Linked DNA regions of Homo sapiens. The protein of the gene in region 2 interacts with the protein of the main gene of each other region in a biochemical or structural test. Each region holds a gene or a part of one and is shown on either strand. Other genes may lie near its edges.

Evidence for each region.
Region 1: the proteins of PSMD9 (region 2) and UPF2 form a complex in vitro, tested with the Homo sapiens proteins (one study listed by IntAct).
Region 3: the proteins of PSMD9 (region 2) and ELSPBP1 form a complex in vitro, tested with the Homo sapiens proteins (one study listed by BioGRID).

What each region holds. Positions count from the first base shown.
Region 1 is NC_000010.11:12,039,810-12,046,688, forward strand, and holds the start of UPF2 (regulator of nonsense transcripts 2), read right to left. Parts: upstream 3,001-6,879; 5' UTR 2,946-3,000; intron 1-2,945. UniProt on the Homo sapiens protein: Involved in nonsense-mediated decay (NMD) of mRNAs containing premature stop codons by associating with the nuclear exon junction complex (EJC).
Region 2 is NC_000012.12:121,912,714-121,918,844, reverse strand, and holds the end of PSMD9 (26S proteasome non-ATPase regulatory subunit 9), read right to left. Parts: intron 2,990-6,131; coding exon 2,901-2,989; intron 2,562-2,900; coding exon 2,534-2,561; 3' UTR 548-2,533; downstream 1-547. UniProt on the Homo sapiens protein: Acts as a chaperone during the assembly of the 26S proteasome, specifically of the base subcomplex of the PA700/19S regulatory complex (RC).
Region 3 is NC_000019.10:48,004,632-48,011,631, forward strand, and holds part of ELSPBP1 (epididymal sperm-binding protein 1 precursor), read left to right. Parts: intron 1-2,450; exon of another isoform or gene 2,451-2,592; coding exon of another isoform or gene 2,593-2,710; intron 2,711-4,019; coding exon of another isoform or gene 4,020-4,036; coding exon 4,037-4,106; intron 4,107-7,000.

The sequences.
Region 1 (6,879 bases), on a different chromosome or scaffold from region 2:
GGGTTTCTCCATGTTGGTCAGGCTGGTCTCAAACTCCCGACCTCAGGTGATCTGCCTGCCTTGGCCTCCCAAAGTTCTGGGATTTACAGGCATGAGCCACTGTGGCTGGCAGCATGTCTCATTCTGAAGATAAAATAACATCTTAAATTTTTCAAAGAAAAGATTAAGAAATTCATGTAGTATCTGACAAATTCACAAAGATCATCATTTATTAGTTCAACAAAGTCCCAAACTTTCATGACTCTTTAATAAGATTCATGTCTTCATTAAATTTTAAGTACTTAGTATAAGAAATAAAGCTGCAGTAGGCATGCAAGAATTAGACTCGGGGCTGGGCATGGTGGCTCATGCCTGTAATCCCAGCACTTTGGGAGGCCGAGGCAGGTAGATCACGAGGTCAAGAGTTCGAAACCATCCTGGCCAACAACATGGTGAAACCCCATCTCTACTAAAAACACCAAAATTAGCTGGGCGTGGCAGCACACGCCTGTAGTCCCAGCTACTCAGGAGGCTGAGGCAGGAGAATCACTTGAACCCGGGAGGCGGAGGTTGCAGTGAGCCAAGATGGCACCACTGCACTCCAGCCTGGCGACAAAGCCAGACTCCGTCTCAAGAAAAACAAAAAACAAAAAACAAAACAAAAAAAAGGATTAGACTGTACCCTAGAACATAATAAAACAGATTCTCCGTAAAACCCTTAAGTCCTGATACTGGTATCTCCTTTCAACCACTTCATCCTTACATTACAAGCATACGCCCAAAGTATACTTGCGACTAAATTTCCGTAAACAAAAAAAAAAGACAAAAATCTAGAAGTTCATGAAGAGGCAGCAATGCAACTTGTGAAAACAACATACATGGGCTTGGAAGTCGGACTGATTTTAAATCTGCATCCCAACTCTGCAGCCTGATAGCTACAGAAATCAGGCAACAACTTCTCTGAGTCCACTTATTTATCAATAAGATGGATATACTGCTATCTATCTTGTAGAGTTCTTAAAATTCTAGCATAGTAACTAGCATGAGGGAGGCATTAATAAATGTTCTGTCACAAAGAACACTGAGAAGTTCAGCATACAATGAAAGATTTGTAAAGTCAGATAAAGACTATTAGATTTTATCTACTTCTATCCTCAATTTTTACATTCCAAGGATAGCAGCAGAGTCACCTACCCAAGATTATATATACAGCTAGTTTCCGTGGCTGGACCAACACTCACTACCCAGTGCTTTTTCACTACCTACACTAAAACGAATAAAATATACAAACACCGTGATTCACCTCAATACACGTTTGTTTTATGTCGACTTAAAAAACTGAGCACTAAGTGATATTTAATAAAATGCTAAAATTCTTATTTCAATAACTTCAAGCTTTAACAGCCAAACTTTTCATCTAAAGTGTTTCCAAAAGTTTTTCAAGTCCAAATACAATTTTAAATAGGTCCTTTCTCAAGATAGTGAGGAGAAAAAGTCGTGATCTTTTCACTGGAATCCGATTAGCTGTTACAAATTAGTTTGCTGAATACAATTATATTCAGACTACCCTTAAAAGGAAACCATGCTTTAAAACCACCTTCCTAGCTCCCAAAATAGTGTCCTGTCACTTGAACTGTATATTTTATTTGGTATTCTAAATACATTCTGAACTTCCAAAAGAAAGTAAAACTAATTTACTAGAAGTACCAATGGAGTGTATTGGGGGGAAGAGGGCACAAAAGGGGGTGTTTCCCTTTTAAAGACATTCCCTTGCAAAGTACCATATGGATTATGTATGAAATCCCAATCAGAGTGCTCCGAAAACACTCCAGTATGAGAGAATGCGGTTTTACCTTTCAATTCTCTTATTCAAAATGCTGTCAGGACAGAACAGCACAGGAACACTATCTCCCAGTTTCTGACTTTATTTTTTAAAGAACATCCTTAGTATAAAGGACGTATTAAGAACTGTTAGAAATTGTACCAGCTCACAAATGAGGAGACTGACGATGTTAAGGAACACCTAAGAACTATGGAAATGAGATAAAGCGTCAGCGAGGGTTTCACTTTGATCTGATGCATCGTTTCGTGTCGTGTAAGTCCTCTAAGATGAGCAAGAGAGCTGAAGGTCCGATCACCCCAGCGTGGACCCAGCTGGCTCTGCTCTGCCAACCTGGGGACCAAATATCCTGTGATCACTTCCTTAGTCCAACAGTCCTAGCAAGAAGAGAGTGCTTGGCGCCTTGAAGAGGTGAAGGTAAAGTGAAGAATCAACCAGCCTATGTGATTAAAAGGAAGTCAACCAAACAGCCCATGCCCACCATCCCCAGATACACCCCAAGCCCCTTCCCCTACACATACCTCTCCTACAAACCCCTGCTCTGGTGGTGTAGGAACCTCTAAACCCACCACACTTCCCCGACACAACTCCCCTTCCCACAGGTATCCACGGTCACCTTCGCGGACCATCGCTGCCCCAACCCCAACTTCTCGCCCCACACTCCCTCGCCACAGAAGCCTTCCCGGCCGGTCTCCCCACTCCGCAGCCTCCCACACACGCGCCCTCCCCACTTTCTCGCCCTCGCTTCCCTCCCGGCTCTCGAGGAGCTTCCCCCGACCTCCCCTCGCTCTCCTCCACGCCCCCGAACACTTTCGCCCCTCCACCGCGGGCTCCCCGCCTCCAGTCTCGAGGCCCGGCCCAGGCATGTGGGGCAGGCACCTCCTCCACCGCCCCCCAAGCATGGCCCGGCCCGGGGGCTCCCGCGTTGATGGGAGCCTCGGAGACAGGGGGTCTGAGGAGAACGACGCCGGACCCGCGGTCCCTCCACTGCTCGCCGACCCCGGAGAGCTGGAGTGTGGAGTCGCCTCTGGGGTCCCCCAGGGAGTAGGAGTCTAGGCCGGTGCCCCCCAGCCCCATTTCCTCCCGATCGTTGGAGCGGAGGGGAAGGAGGATCCCCGGGACTCACCTCGAGCCTGTTGTCAACATTAGCCCCGGGTTTCCCAGCACCAACTCCAGCGCTCGGGCTCTCCCCTCCCCTCCCCCCACCTATCTCGCAGCCGAGGGCCCGCCTTCCCTCAGCTCCCCCTCCTCCCTCCGCCCGCCAGCCCTCCCGCCCGCCACTCACCAGCGCGGCCGGGCTGAGAGTGGGGGCGGGGCGGAAGGAGGCGAGAGGGAAAAGGCCATCCGCGCGACTGCCCGATTAAAAACAGTCCTGATCGTCTTCCCTGCGGCATGCCGATGCCCTCAGCTTGACTCTGGGGTGGCGGGTCCGGGGCAAAGGCTCATATGAGTGCCATTCACTTAACAGCTCTTTCAAATTCCCCAGTCGATGAGAAGAGCGAATTTTTCAGACTGGCAATACGTAAGGTAGCCACTACCAGCACCTCAAACCAGGGCCCCAGCGGAGGGGTGGAGTGTTCCGAGGACCCGAGGCAGGAAGTGGATTGGTCGCCAGGAAAGGGAAAGCGCCTGAATTGGAGCTGCGCAGGCGCAGGCGCTTCGCGGGGGATGGGGGTGGGAAGCGCGAATGGGGCGGGGCGGAGCTCACGGGAGGCGAGGAAGTGTGGTGGAATAGTGGGAGGGTTACGGAGCGCCATTAAGGACAAGCCCGGCCACGTGATTCTCCTGGGCGTTTCCTGGTGCGAACCTAAGGAAGAGGTCTAAGAAGAGAAAGTTTGATTGGACTAATTCGAGGGGAGACGTTGAAGATTTAGAAAATTGGAAACTGGAGAAACTAAACCATATGGCTGGTTTGGGAGGTGGGAGTCGCTTAGGAATGGGTCTAGTCTTAAGAATGCCCTAAAAGACATCGAAAGTCCTGCGGGGGGATTTCCAGAAGCACTTCTAGGTGTTCGACGTAAAAACCACCCAGGGCGAAGAAGAATCAAGGCTTTTTCCATACACTTCTTAGAAAGTACCTGGTTCTAGCAAGCAAACTTTTAAAAATTACAGTGGCAAGACTTCCCTGAGTTATCAAATCACCCATTTTAAAAAAAAAATGGCTAGCGTCGACATTTCTTCTGAATGCGAACCCAGGCCGACTTTCAAAAATGGGTATCAGTTTATCCACACTGCTTATTTCCTCCTGAATTGCTGAAATGGTGCATCTGGCCTCGAAACAGTACTGGGTTCTGCCAACATGATCCGAGTAGGTGGCTCTGGCTGGTCCGGAGCTAGAGGAACAAGGGTGCGAAACTGGTCTTGACGTTTGCTTGACTTGAGGGGGCCCCACCTGGTGCCCAAGCCCACGTAATGAACTACTACCAACCACAAATACTTGAGGCAAGTCCAGGTTCCCTATGACTCAACCTTTGCCCATTTGCCTCTATTTACTGTTTGCTTCCCCATTTACTCTTAGCACGCAAATTATCCTCTCATACTGAGTGTTGCTGCTTCCTGTATTTAAAAATATATATTTTTTATACACTACACATAGGTCAGTCATTTAAAGGATAGTGAAAGAGAAAGATGAAGGCCGGGCACGGTGGCTCACGCCTGTAATCCCAGCACTTTGGGAAGCCGAGGCGGGCGGATCACAAGGTCAGGAGTTCGAGACCATCCTGCCTAACACGGTGAAACCCCGTCTCTACTAAAAATACAAAAAAAATTAGCCGGCCGTGGTGGCACGTGCCTGTAGTTCCAGCTACTCCGGAGGCTGAAGCAGGAGAATGGCGTGAACCGGGAAGGCAGAGCTTGCAGTGAGCCGAGTTTGCGCCACTGCACTCCAGCCTGGGCGACAGAGGGAGACTCCGTCTCAAAAAAAAAAAAGAGAAAGATGAATACTGCTATTCTGCAGCATTGATAAACAATTATGAGAACTGCCCCAAATACCATATTGGTGATAGCCACCCACGCTTCTCTTCAAGGTTTCCTTTTCCCATTTCATGGGATTACCTTAAGAAGCTTTACTTCTGGCTGGTGCGGTGCCTCATGCCCGTAATCTCAGTACTTTGGGAGGCCGAGGCTGGTGGATCACCTGAGGTCAGGAGTTCCAGACCAGCCTGGCCCCAATATGGTGAAACCCAGTCTCCACTAAAAATACAAAATTAGCCAAATGTGGTGGCGAGCGCCTGTAATCCCAGCTACTCGGGAGGCTGAGGCAGAAGAATCACTTAGAACCCGGGAAGCAGAGGTTGCAGTGAGCCGAGATAGCGCCACTGCACTCTGGACTGGGCAACAGAGTGAGACTCTGCCTCAAAAAAAAAAAAAAAAAGAAAGAAAAGAAAGAAAGAAAAAAGCTTTACCTCTTTGTTAATAAATATAATAAATCCTTCTCATCCTAAATCAAGTCAACCTTTGTCTTTAATCAGGTGTTAAAAGGAAATCACCTAAAATCAAAAAACAGGAGGGCCTTTTTGTTGAGAATTTGCTATTTCACATTTGTGATTTTAGTTCATCGCAATCACCATTTTATAAAAATAGAGTCAGATGAATTTACTATCACAAAACTAATAAGTATACTATCTAGTATTCTCAAATCTAACTCCAAAAACCCAAGTTCTTTCTGCTATGTCTCTATGCAAACTTTTACATAAACTGAGAATGCTGCCAATCATTTTACTTCCAAAGACAGATGTCAAGCTAGCCACCAAAAGCCTGATGTGGGAATATCATTGTAATCTCTTAACTAGAAAAAACACCCCGCTCTGAAGAGGCCATCATTTTTTTATTCGGATAATAATTCAAACTTCATGATTTTCTGAAAATACATTCTCAAGATGAATTTTTGAGAAAAGTCTCAAAAATGTTCATTGTTATTTTTGCCTGCTCCAATTGACAGAACTGTTCTATATGGGGAAAAAAGAGAATGAAACTATTTAGTTTTTATTTAGACCTACACGATACTACTCCCTACTTAAAACCTACCTAGTGGCAGCTTCACAGACGAAAGCAAAGGCCAGGCAAAGAGATTACAATTACGGAGCAGGACAAATCCTGAGTTTAAGGAAAAGAAAAATGCATCAGATGAAGCCAACCAGCTATAACTACAGCCTCTGCCCACTGACCTCAGAGAACTGGGAGTGTTCTGTTCCATGAGGAAATCCAGCTTTGATCTTTTAGAAGCCGATGTTTAACTAACCTAGTTTAAGCTGCTTTTTAAAAAATACCCACCTCTTGGTATATCTCTGGTAGAAATTTTTTCAGCGTTCCCTCTATCTGCTTAACAGTTTCCAAAAGTAAATGTGTTGAGGTGTGTCCCTTCAATATGAAATATAAGCATCGGCCGGGCGTGATGGCTCACGCCTGTAATCCCAACACTGGGAGGCCAAGGCGGGCGGATCACCTGAGGGCGGGAGTTCGAGACCAGCCTGGCCAACATGGTGAAACCCTGTCCCTACTAAAAATATAAAATTAGCCAGGCTTGGTGGTGTGCGCCTGTAATCCCAGCTACTCGGGAGGCTGAGGCAGGAGAATCGTTGAACCCAGAAGGCGGAGGTTGCAGGCAGCCGAGATCACTCCATTGTACTCCAGCCTGGGCAACAAGAGCGAAACTCTGTCTCAAAAAATAAAAAAAGAAAAGAAATGTAAGTATTGAGGGTGCATTTAAACAAATATAAACATACGAAACGTATTAGTACTTATTACCAAATCATGTTGGAATTTCTTGTGGAACTGTAAGATGAAAATCAGTTCACTAACACTGGCTTCTCTGAATTCCACCAAAACAGAACACAAGCAATGTGAGATTAACCTGTTTTATTTTTCAAGCTTTTAATGTGGCTAGTCAAAAAAGTAAATTAATATTGGCTTGGCCGGGCGCTATGGCTGACACCTGTAATCCCAGCATTTTGGGAGGCCAAGGCGGGTGGATCACCTGAGGTCAGGAGCTCGAGACTAGCCTGGCCAACATGGTGAAACCCTGCCTCTACTAAAATACAAAAATTGGCCGGTCATGGTGG
Region 2 (6,131 bases):
CTCCAACTCAGGTCTCCCTGGGGCCGCCCCAGGCCCCACAAGGGCCAGGTCGGGTGAGCGCCCCCCAAGGGGCACCAGACCCCGCCAGGTCGGGGGCCCCCTCGCCAGGGCCGCGTGGCCTCCGCCCCGGACTTACAGAGAGCACCCACCCCGGTCTTCAAAAGGCCAGAGTCGTCCCGCCGCCTGGACCCCTCAGCCACCTCCCGGGCCTCCTTCCAGCGGCCGCCACCTTCTCCACCAGCTCCCTAGTTCTGGTTGCCACCCAAGCTCCGTCCCCATGGCAACCGCCACCGCCGGAAGCGACAGGCCCTAAAGCGACAGGGCAGGGCGGTGGTCACGTGCCAGGAAACGGTGACGAGCGTGCCCGACGTGCCTCCTGCCGGTCGCTGGCGGCATAGACTTTCCTCGCTTTTCTGTCCTTCCTCCGCTCGCACGATCCCACCTTTTCACATGGTCCCGTCCCCTAAGAAGCTGCAGCGGCCAATACTGCCAATTTTTACTTTCCGCAACCTTGGCAAGATGGGGTGGAGAAGTATGAACTCGGATACAATGCTCTTTTCCAAAAGCAAACTGAATTTCCAGGTCTCATGGATGCAGCACACAACCGTCCTGCCTGCCTCCTCACCGGGCACCGCGTGTTGCAGACAATTCCAGCTGGCTGGGGGCAGATATGACACAGGGTGCACCAGCTTGCGGTTCTCAGCACAAAGCGTTTCCGCAAAACCGGTCTGGCTATATCTATTAGGATCATTCCACGTCAAAGTGGCTCTCCACTAACATCTCATGGAAGACGGCAACAGGTGGCCACACGGGTTTCCACTGGGACCCCTGCAGGAAACCAGCCAGAGCCACTGAGGCAGAAGGCTCTCTGCTGCTGTCATTTTAGGAGAATGTGAATAATTCTCCCCGCCCACACTGCCATGCCCCAGTGATGGTAAATTGATTAATATGCATACATCTTAAAATAAAAAAGAAAGGATAAACTGGGCAAGCTGTGTTTATTATAGTCTGAGACTTTATAAAAGAGACTGGAAAATACGTGGAATTAGAACATGCAATTTAAACAGCAAACATTGGTAAACACAGCATGTCTGTGGCTACCAGAGGGGAATACGTATGGCTGTCAGGTCAAATAGAGTTTGAGGGAATTCGCCCAATAGGAAGGCTTTGGAATTGAGTGTGAGAACCTGTGGCTGGAAGCACACAGCAATACCAATCCCATCAAGGCAAGCTGGTATCTGTATCCAACCACAGCAAAACCAGTCCCAAGGAACACAGGGCTTGCCTGGCAGAACTGCCAAAACAGAAAGCGGTGTGCAAGAACTGGGGAAATGAACACTGATACCATGGAGAGGAAAAAATAATTCAAAGTATTGGCAGGAATCCCTGAGAACCATTTTACCATCTTAAAAGAGACAAAAAATAAAAGGGAGGAAGAATAAGCATTTTCAAGAGGTCTGATCTACTCGTTCCTATCCATACCTCAGCGGTTTACAAAATAGCGCTGATCTCAGGGCATAGCCAGGAGGTTCAATTATAAAAAGTCAAACTAGCAGTGGGCTGGGCGCAGTGGCTCACGCCTGTGATCCCAGCACTTTAGGAGGCCAAGGCAGGAGGACTGCTTGAGCCCAGGAGTTCGAGACCAACCTGGTCAACACAGGGAGACCCTGTCTCTACAAAAAATAAATTAGCTATGCATGGTGGTGCACGCCTGTGGTCCCAGATACTTGGGCGGCTGAGGCAGTGCCCACAGCGTCAAGGCTTCAGTGAACCTTGATCACGACACTGCACTCCAGCCTGGGTGACAAAGCAAGACCTTGTCTCCAGAAAACAAAAACAAAAACACACAAAAACGGAGGGGTTCTTACTAGCGAAGTGAAAGGAGCTTGCTGCCCTCTGGTGGGTTCCTAAAGAGGAAGCTGACAGGACACCACGCTGGGCCACCTGGGAAGCCTCCAGGCTTTCCCTGTTCTCCAAAGGGAGCTACTATGGCCCTGACAGCCCAGCTGCTGAGGAAGCACAGTACTTAACCATTTCCGTATCCACAGCAGCAAGGCCTCAGTGCAAAGAAATATGTTGGTCAAAGCCTGACTTTGCAATTGCTAGCCTGTTTTGCCCAACTTTCTATGAAGCTCTTCTGACCCCATCTGAGCTTTGGTTTGGGAGGGTCATAAGAAATTCAGCTGGGGTGACAACAGGGTCATATCAGCACTGTAAAACTCTTTATTAAAAATAATAATAATAATCACACCAGTACCTGCCAGAATAACTTCCGCCCACTTGCCCACAATCCAGGGAATTCCTATTTAGGGCCGTGGCCTAATTTGTGAAAGAGGCCAAGCCTAAGTTTTTAAGAATGCCTTAATCCAGGGAGATTACACTGGTGGGCCACAGTACTGCCACCACACAGAAGTTCAGGTTACAAGCCTCTTCCAGATCCTTATGCTTCAGGGAGAGAAGACAAGTTGGAAATCCCTAGACCCAAGTCCAGGGCAAGGGAAGATGCTTTCCTGTTACTGTTCCCCAGGGACAATCATCTTTGCAGAGGAATAATGTTGCAGCTGGAAGAAAGAAGAAAAGGAATGGCGTAAGTTTGGAGGCTCCCTTCAGGAAGGTCAGAGGCTGAGCCCTTCTGACCTTTTCACCAATGTTCTTTCATTCTTTTAAAGCAAATGCCTAGTGCATGAATGAACTGGAGAGACTCCCAGGAGAGACTCTGGGGCTCCCTCTGCTTCTAGAGCTGTAGTCTCGTTCCTACCACGAGGATTTATCTGCAGTTTCCATGCAAACTGGGGATTCCCATTATTCCCCAATGTCTCCCCAGCCTTCCCCTCCAGCTTCATGTTTAACAAACACTCAAATGATGCCCCAGTGAGAATGAACAGAAACAGATACTTTACCCCAGCAGTCCTTTTCCTGCCCAGCGTGTTGGAACAAGTCTAAGCTGGTGTTTTTCCCCCCTGCGGATCACTGTCACATTCAGGGGCTTCTGAAAAGAAAATAAGCTCATTTCGTGTTCAGCCTCGTTAGTACTCAGAGATGCAGGCTAAAATGCTGAGATCCCATTTTTTGCCTATCAAATTGGTAAAGATTTACATTTGCAGCATAATCCTGTGGTTGGCGAGAGGGTGGGGAACGTGGCACTGCACTCTCAGGGCAGCCAGGGTGCTGACCTCAGTACCATCTTCCTCAAAAAACACGTGTCCCACCACCAACGATCTTTAAAAGGTACATCCAAGGTACATAGTACACAATTGCAAGATGACATACAAATTACAAGACATACAAATGCCTGTAATCCCAGCACTCTACAAAAAGTATAAAAATTAGCGAGACATACAAATGAAATGTTCATTCCAGGACTGTGTAGAAATTCAAAAACTGAAAACACCAGAAATGTCCATCAATAGGTATTGTTCAAATACAGTACAGAGAATGAAGGGTTTTAGTCAAAACAAACCAAAACCCCACCAAAGTATGAACCTATTTGATAATATTTTCTTTCTTTTTTTTTTTTTTTGAGACACAGTCTCACTCTGTCACCCAGGCTGGAGTGCAGTGGCACAATCTTGGCTCACTGCAACCTCTGCTTCCCAGGTTCTAGCAATTCTCATGCCCCAGCCTCCTGAGTAGCTGGGACTACAGGTGCCCGCCACCACACCCGCCTAATTTTAGTATTTTTAGTAGAGACAGGGTTTCGCCATGTTGGCCAGGCTGGTCTCAGAACTCCTGATCTCAGGTGATCCACCCACCTCAGCCTCCCAAAGTGCTGGGATTACAGGTGTGAGCCACCGTGCCCGGCCGATAATATTTTCTAAAAGGACACCTGTGTTGCTCTAGTGTGCGAAGTTTTCTGGAAGAACATGGAAAAACTTGTTAAGAGTGGTTACTTCCAGAGAGGACTAGTCCTTTGGAAAAAGAAGATGTTTACTTTTATATATTTCCATATCATTAATTTTTTAACCATGCGTATGTATTGCTTTATTTTTCTGAGACAGAGTCTTGCTCTGTTGCCCAGGCTGGAGTGTAGTGGTGCAATCTCAGCTCACCGCAACCTCAGCCTCCTAGGTTCAAGCAATTCTCGTGCCTCAGCCTCCTGAGTAGCTGGGACTACAGGCATGCAGCACCATGCTCAGCTAATGTTTCTGTATATTTAGTAGAGACAGGGTTTCACCATACTGGCCAGCCTGGTCTCAAACTCCTGGGCTCAAGTGATCTGCCCACCTCAGCATCCCAAAGTGCTGGGATTTTGGGCATGTGCCACCACACCTGGCATGTATGTATTACTTTCTTTTTTTTGAGATGGGTTCTCTGTCGCGCAGGCTGGAGTACAGTGGCACAATCTCGGCTCACTGCAACCTCCGCCTCCCCGGTTCAAGCAATTCTCCTGCCTCAGCCTCCTGAGCAACTGGGATTACAGGCACGTGCCACCATGCCCAGATAATTTTTGTATTTTTAATAGAGATGGGGTTTCGCCATGTTGGCCAGGCTGGTCTTGAACTCCTGATCTCAGGTGATCCACCCACCTCAGCCTCCCAAAGTGCTGGGATTACAGGCATGAGCCACCACACCCAGCCTGTATATAGTACTTTAATTTAAAAAATTAAAATTAAAGCAGGGGGAGTACATACCAAAAAAATTACAAATTAAAATACGATATCCAGGCACGGTGGCTCACGCCAGTAATCCCAGCACTTTGGGAGGCAGGAAGATCACTTGAGCCCAGGAGTTGAAGACCAGGCTGGGCATGGTGAAACCCTGACTCTACAAAAAGTATAAAAATTAGCGAGGCATGGTGGTGTGCACCTATAGTCCCAGCTACTCGGGAGGCTGAGGCAGGAGGATTGCTCAAGGGAGGTCAAGGCTGCAGTGAGCTGTGACTGCACCACTGCACTCCAGCCTGGGCAACAGAGTGAGACCCTGTCTCAAAAAAATAAAAATAAATAAATAAAACAAGATGCCATCAAAATCTAAAACTTCTATGTATCAAATGACACTATTAACAGAGTGAAAAGGCAACCCACATGATAGGAGAAAATACATACATGCTGGGTACGGTGGCTCATGCCTGTAATCCCAACACATTCAGAGGCCCAGGCAGGAGGACTGCCTCAGCTCAAAAGTTCAAGACCAGCCCGGCAACAAAGAGAGATCTCGTCTTTACAAAAAACATATATTTTTTTTAATTAGCCAGGCTTGATGACGCACATCTGTAGTCCCAGCTACTTGGGAGGCTGAGGTGGGAGGATCACTTGAGCCCAGAAGCTCAAGGCTGCAGTGAGCCATGAATGTGCCACTGCACTCCAGCCTGGGTGACAGAGTGAGATTCTGTCTTAAAAAAAAAAAAAAAAGAAAAAAGAAAATACATGCAAATCATATATCTAATAAGGATTTAACATCCAGAACATATAAAGAACTCCTATACCTCAACATCAACAAAAAAATCTGATTAGAATATGAGCAAAGGGCTGGGTGTGGTGGCTCACGCCTGTAATCCCAACACTTTGGGAGGCCAAGGCAGGCGGATCATGAGGTCAGGAGATCAAGACCATCCTGGCTAACACGGTGAAACCCCGTCTCTACTAAAAATACAAAAAAAAAGGCCAGGCGCGGTGGCTCACGCCTGTAATCCCAGCACTTTGGGAGGCCAAGGTGGGCAGATCACAAAGTCAGGAGATTGACACCATCGTGGCTAACACAGTGAAACCCTATCTCTACTAAAAATACACACACAAAAAAAATTAGCCAGGCTTGGTGGTGGACGCCTGTAGTCCCAGCTACTCGGGAGGCTGAGGCAGGAGAATGGCGTCAACCCAGGAGGCGGAGTTTGCAGTGAGCCGAGATTGTGCCACTGCACTCCAGCCTGGGTGACAGAGCGAGACTCCGTCTCAAAAAAAAAAAAAAAGAAAAGAAAAGAAAATGAGCAAAGGACTTGAATAGACCTTTCTTTTTCTTTCTTTTTTTTTTTTTTTTTTTGAGACAGGGTTTCACTCCTGTTGCCCAGGCTGGAGTGTAGTGATGCAATCCCTTAGCTCACTGCAACCTCTGCCTCCTGGGCTCAAGCGATTCTCCTGCCTCAGCCTCCTGAGTAGCTGTGACTACAGGCACAATCCTCCACACCTGGCTAATTT
Region 3 (7,000 bases), on a different chromosome or scaffold from region 2:
TCTCAGAGCACCCTCCCCTCACCTCTCAATCAAAAGTGACCTTGTCCTAGTTGTTCCTGAGACTCGTCCACAGCAATGATCACAGCGAAGAGTTGTATTTGTTTCTGGTTTCTTCGCTTCATATCTGTCTCCTTGGTTGACTCTCAGCCCCACGAAGGCAGGGCCTATGCCTGCTTTACCCACTGCTGCATACTCATCGTGTAGCCCTGGCCCCACATCTTTTAAATGCTCAATAAATACTCATTCCTGAGTGGATGCATAAAGCATGCATCAGGAAAGGGCCCATACTGGGCACAGTGGCTCTTGCCTGTAATCCCAGTGCTTAGGAGGCTACGCAGGAGGATGGCTTGGGCTCAGGAGTTTGAGACCAGCCTGGGCAACATAGCAAGACCTCGTCTCTACAAACAATAATAATAGTTTAAAAATTAGCTGGGTGTGGTGATGCGTGCCTGTAGTCCCAGCCACTTGGGAGGCTGAGGTGGGAGGATCACTTGATGGGAGATGGAGGCTGTAGTGAGCCATGATGGCGCCACTGCACTGCAGCCTGGGTGACAGAGCAAGACCCTGTCTCAAAAAAAAAAAGAAAAGAAAAAAGAAAAAAACAAAAAGAGAAAAAGAGCTCAGCCTTGTAGAGGAGAGAGGCTGGAGGCTGCATATCAGTGAGGCAACAGGACAACAGTTGAATAGTTGAGAAGAGAAATGAAAAAGGCCTTCCTTTAGTCTTTAACAGCAGAGGCAGGAAAAGCGGATAGATTCAGGAGCTCCAGAAAGTAGAACCAACTGACTGATAGAACACAGCAAGAGACAGGGACAGCAGATCTACACTGGGGGCTACAACTCAGGTGGTTGAGAAGAACATAGTGCAATTAAATGAAGTAACATGGGGGAAGGATAGCATATTTTGGGCTGTATCTCAACAGCCAAAGCTTGGAATTTGAGATGCTTGAAGGACATCTAGGTGGACATGTCTGGGAGGCAGTTGAAAATACAGTTCTGGCTCTCAGAAGTGAAACAATACTATATGAACAATACTATTTTGGATGATATTTATGAGTTCTTAGCACATGTCCGGTCCCATGTTAAGCCTAGAGGCAGCATCGTACATTGGTTAAGAGCTCAATTACTCTGAACTGAGTCAGATTGTTGGAGTTCACTTGCAAGTTCTCCAACTTGCATGATCTGTAACCCTCAGCAAGGTGCTTAAGCTTACTGTGCCCCATCTGTGCATATCTGGGGTAGTAATGGTACCTACCACGTTGGGCTACTTCCTATCAGGATTACAGTGAATTTAGAATAGTGTGTAGCACTCAATGAGTTTTATCTGTTTTTTGTTTTGTTTTGTGTTTTGAGACAGAGCCTTGCTGTGTCGCCCAGGCTGGAGTGCAGTGGTGCGATCATAGTGCACTGCAGCCTCGACCTCCTGGGCTCCAGTGATCCTCCCACCTCAGCTTCCTGAGTAGCTGGGACTACAGGCATGCACCACCATGCAAGGCTATTTTTTTTATTTTTGTAGAGATGAGGTCTCACTATGTTGTCCAGGCTGATCTCAAACTCCTGGCCTCAAGCAATCCTCCCATCTTGGCCTCCCAAATCTGTCATATTTTTATGATTGTCGTTAATCATCATAACAAGGCTGAGTGGTAGATAGGATTAGCATCCTCATGTTTTGACACGACGAAACTGAGGCTTAGAAAATTTAAGGTTGGGCCCAGTGGCTCACGCCTGTAACACTAGCACTTTAAGAGGCCGAGGCGGGTGGATCATTTGAGGTCAGGAGTTCAAGACCAGCCTGGCCAACGTGGTGAAACCCTGTCTCTACTAAAAATACAGAAATTAGCCAGGCGTGGTGGCACGTGCCTGTAATCCCAGCTACTTGGGAGGCTGAGGCAGGAGAATCGCTTGAGCCTGGCAGATGGAGGTTGCCGTGAGCTGAGGTGGTGCCACTGCACTCCAGTCTGGGCGTCTGGGCGACAGAGTGAGACCCTGTCTCAAAAAAAAAAAAAAAAAAAAAAAAAAGAAAAGAAAAAGAAAATTTAAGTAATTTCCCTGAAGTCACCCAGCTGGTAAACGGTGGAGCTGGGATTTGAATCTGACTCATTCATCCTGCATTGTCAGGTCTAAGTCCTGACTGAGCCACTAGCCAAAGAGAATGAGAGTCCTTCACAAGTAGTGAATGAGACATCACTCAGAAAAAGCCTGTTTGAGGCATGGTGCTGGGGTTAAGAGTAAAAGGCTTCAAGGAAGAACGACAAGAAAAAGGGAGAAAGACACTTTGATGTGTAGCGGGAGAGCCAAGCACTGTTGGGAGAGGAAAAAAGTTTGGGGCGTGTTGTGTGGCTCAGATACTCAGTGGTGCCACCTACCTGTGGGAGGACTTAAATCAGTAACTTTGGGATTTTGATTCCTGGCGGTATCTGGGTTTCTTGCTAAAAGTTGGTTCCATCTGATGCCTTCCCGAGCTATCCTGACCTTGGCTTTAATAATTCATAAATGCCACTAACGATCTACAAGTGAAAAGCATTTTCACATCAAGGTCTAATTGGACCCTCGTGGCCACCCGGAGACACAGGAACGACTAAATACATTCTGCAGATGAGGAAACAAAGGCTCATAGAGGGGAAGGGGTTTACGTTGCCTAAGAACTCTGACACTAGTATAGACAGGCCCGCACTGACTCTGAGATACATCACGTACCAGCTGTGGTCCTTTGGTAAGTTACTTAACCTCCCAAGCCTCAGTTTCCCTTTTCTGTGAAGTGGAGATGATCATGCCTGCCCTTAGATTTTCAGGAGCAAATTGGATTGTGGATACAAAGCTTAGGACATCCGGTATACAGTAAGCAGTCAATAATTGGGAGCCAGCCGTAGAAGTGGTGATAGTAGCTGAGACTCAAGTCAAATCCAGACCACCAATTCCAAACTGTGGGTTCTTGTTGCTGCTGAGAATGGCATGGTCATCTGTCATCAAGGAAACGGCACGAAGGAAAATAGAGCTAGTAATAACTATGGTTAATGAGGACGGTAAATGCTAATCACTGAAGGACTTTCGTCTCCAGCTAAGGAGATGAGTGTGATTCATGGGGAGGATTTAAGGCTATTGTTAAGGTTCCAACAATGAGAAGGGCCCTTGCAGCCATTAATATGGGTTAGAACCCAGACCCTGCCCTTTCCTCCCTGGGTGACCAATCCAGGTCTGAGTGTTAGTTTCTGCATCTATAAAATGGGGGTTAAAACATGTATTACTTGATTTATGAAAGCCAAGTGACATAAAGTGTGTTGAACATCGAGCCTGGAGTACAGTAAGTGTTCAACAAGTGTTTCATTTTTTTCTTTCCATCACACTTTCCTAAGGACAGTACATGACAGTAGAGTTATGCATCAGGAATACAGTCTGAGAAGTGCATTGTTAGGCAATGTCGTCCTTGTGTGAGCATCATAGAGTGTACTCACACGAACCTAGATGGTAGTGCCTGCTACACACCTGGGCTATATGATACAGCCTGTGCTTCCAGGCTACAAACCTGTACATACACACATGTAGAAACACACACACATATCACACACACATATGTAGAAACATATGTGTGTGTGTGGTATATGTGTGTGTATGTGTGTATTTAGAGATAGGGTCTCACTCTGTTACTGAGGCTATAGTACAGTGGCACAATCATAGCTCACTGCAGCCTTGACCTCCTGGGCTCAAGTGATCCTCTTGCCTCAGCCTCCTGAATAGCTGGGACCACAGGCATACACCACCATGCCTGGCTAATTTAAATGAAAATTTTGTAGAGGTGGGGTCTCACTATGTTGTCCAGGCTGGTCTTGAACTTCTGGCTTTAAGCGATCCTTTGTCTTGGTCTCCCAAAATGCTGGGATTACAGGTGTGAGCTACCATGCCTGGTCTATTTTTTAAATTACTGTGGATGGAAAGAAAAATGGCATGTATGACGTCAAATCTAGGAGGTAATGGGAAGAGGAAGGGGACGTGTGGGATGAAAATTTTTGTCTTCTTTTCCACAGAGAAGAGGGCAGCCAAGATGACCCGATGGTCCAGTTACCTGTTGGGATGGACAACCTTCCTTCTCTATTCCTATGAGTCAAGTGGAGGTAAGGACACTCAAAGCAACAGGGAGGATTTAGAAGCTGGAGAAGAATGAATGGGGCAAAGCAAAGATTCCTGGAACTAAGTAGGCAGGAGATGGCTTAGCAAAAATCTCAGAAGAAGCTGGGCGCGGTGGCTGACACCTGTAATCCCAGCACTTTGCAGGGCTGAGGCAGGCAGATCACTTGAGGTCAGGAGTTCCAGAGCAGCCTGCCCAACATGGTGAAACCCCATCTCTACTAAAAATACAAAAATTAGCCAGGCATGGTGGTGAGCGCCTGTAATCCCAGCTACTTGGGAGGCTGAGGCAGGAGAATCGCTTGAACCCAGGAGGTGGAGGTTGCAGTGAGCCGAGATCGTACCACTGAACTCCAGACTGGGAGACAAGAGCAAAACTCCCTCTCAAAAAAAAAAAAAAAAAATCTCAGAAGACCTGGGGTTTGGACCCTGGATCTGCCACTTCTTTTCTTGGTAACTTTGGTCAAGCAACATAAGCTCTCTGAAGTCAATTTCCAGACTGTAAAAGAGAAGTAACGGCATTTATCTCACGGGGTTATTTTGAAGATCAAATAAAATAATGGGCACCAGCATCTTTCATAATGCTCAGCACATGGTGGGGGTAAAAGGCAGGCTATATAATTCCAGTGAACAGAACCTTCAGACCCCAACCTGGACAACCTAATTATATCTTAATATATCTCAGAATCTAAATTAACCACTAAAAGACTGTAAGGTAAGCATGGAAACAGAACAAGAGGAAACCTTGCTTACATGTCATTCACTCAAGCCTTGGTGAGTCATTCTTCACAATTAGAATCCTTTTCTGCCTGATAAATCGTTCTCCTCTGGATAAGGCTCAGGAACCATTTGCATATTGATGCACCTTGATCCCACATTCTTTATTCCAGAGATTCCTAACCTGGGGTCATTGAGTGAGGATTAGAGTCCATGAAAACTGGAATTTACGTTTTAAAAAAAGTGTGTATTTATGAGGGTAGTGAGAATAGCTATTGTAACAAACAAAATCCAAACTATCAGCTGCTTGACACAATAACATTTTTTTTTTCTTGGTTCTGCAAAATCCCAGAAGGGTGCATCTGGTCAGGAAACAATGCTCCACATGGTCATTCAGGGATCCAAGCTTCTTACATCCTGGAGCCCCAACATCCCCTACGGTTTCAGAGTCTGCTGAGGTTTCTTTGCTTTTAGCTTGTAGACAAGTATCAAGAGAGTCTGGAGGACCTTGGAGGAGAGGGTTTTTTGTTTGTTTGTTTTCTTTTGGCCAGGACAGGAAGTGACATTCATCCCTTTCTCCTGCTTCCACTGGCCAAAACTGATATGGCTCTTAACTGCAAGCAAGTCTGGGAGATGCAGTGTAGCAGTGCATTTGGGAGGAAAGTGAAACTGATTTCGGTGAACACACAGCCATCTCAACCATAAGGGCATATGAATATTCTCCTAGAGAGAAGTTCTGGGTTCTCAAAGAACTGACAAATTCCTGAAAGTTTAGGAACTCACAGTTTATTCAGACAAGGAACAATGTACTTGATGGGGTATCCACTTTTCTAGTTATAATCTCATTTTTGTCATGCCTCCCTGAGACCACACCCACATACTTGTGGTGAAACTCAGTATTCCAAGTTCCCTTTGCGTGTATTTACAGATAAATTATTCAGTATACACTTACTGAGTGATCTTTAAGTTCCAGACATTGTGTTATGGACCAGAAGTGCAGAAATAAACAAAACCTAAACCCTCCACTCAGAGAGTTCACAGTAATCGGGAGTTATAGACACATAAATGAATTATTTTTAAAAAATTGGCAACTGCATTCATTTATAGAGATTGACTCTGAGTATTATAAGTGTGAGGAAGAGTATTGACCCAGACTGAGCCAAGTCTTCATGGATGAATAGCAGGGACTAAAGCTGGGAAGAGAGGAAAGGCATTCAGGACAGGGTGAAGGGCAGGACCAAAATCTCAAAGACGAGAAAGAACATGGAATAAGGTCAAGGGAATGTTAATCAGGGAGTGAGAACAGGCAGGTCAGCAGGGTCTGGATTATAGAGGATTGTAACTCAGTTAAGAAGATTAGGCCATCTGCTGGATTACTTTGCAGATGGCTAATAGTATTCATTATGTGCTGATTCTTACTAACGACTCCCAAAGATAACCTTAATTCCACCTACAGGGGCATCTGCCCTCTCCCTCAACACAGTATCCTATATACTCAGTGGTGTTCGTGACTGAGGCAAAGCATTGATAATGACAATAATGACAGTGAAGATGACAATGATAATGATGAGGATGATGATGATATGACGATGATGACAATGATGACGGTAATGATGACAACAATAATAGCGACAATGACAATGATGATGGTGACAGTGATGATGATGACGATGATGATAATGATTATGACAATGATGTGATGAGGAGGAAAATAATGATTACAATAATGATGACAATGATGATGAGAATGACAATAATGGGGTTGATGATGATGATGACAATGATTGATAATGATGATGACAATGACGATGATGATCACCATGATAATGACAATAATGAGGTTGATAATGATGGTGACAATGACTGATGATGATGACAATTATGACGATGATGATGATGATGGTGACAATGATGATGACGATGATAATGATGATGTCAATAATGATGTGATGAGGAGGAGAATAATGATCACGATGACAGTGATGATGATGACAATGACAATAATGAGGTTGATGATAATGACAATGACTGATAATGATGATGACAATGATGATGACAATGACTGATAATGATGACAATGATGATGATGACAATGATGATCATCATCACATGATAATGACAATAATGAGGTGGATTATGATGACAATGATGATGACAACGATGA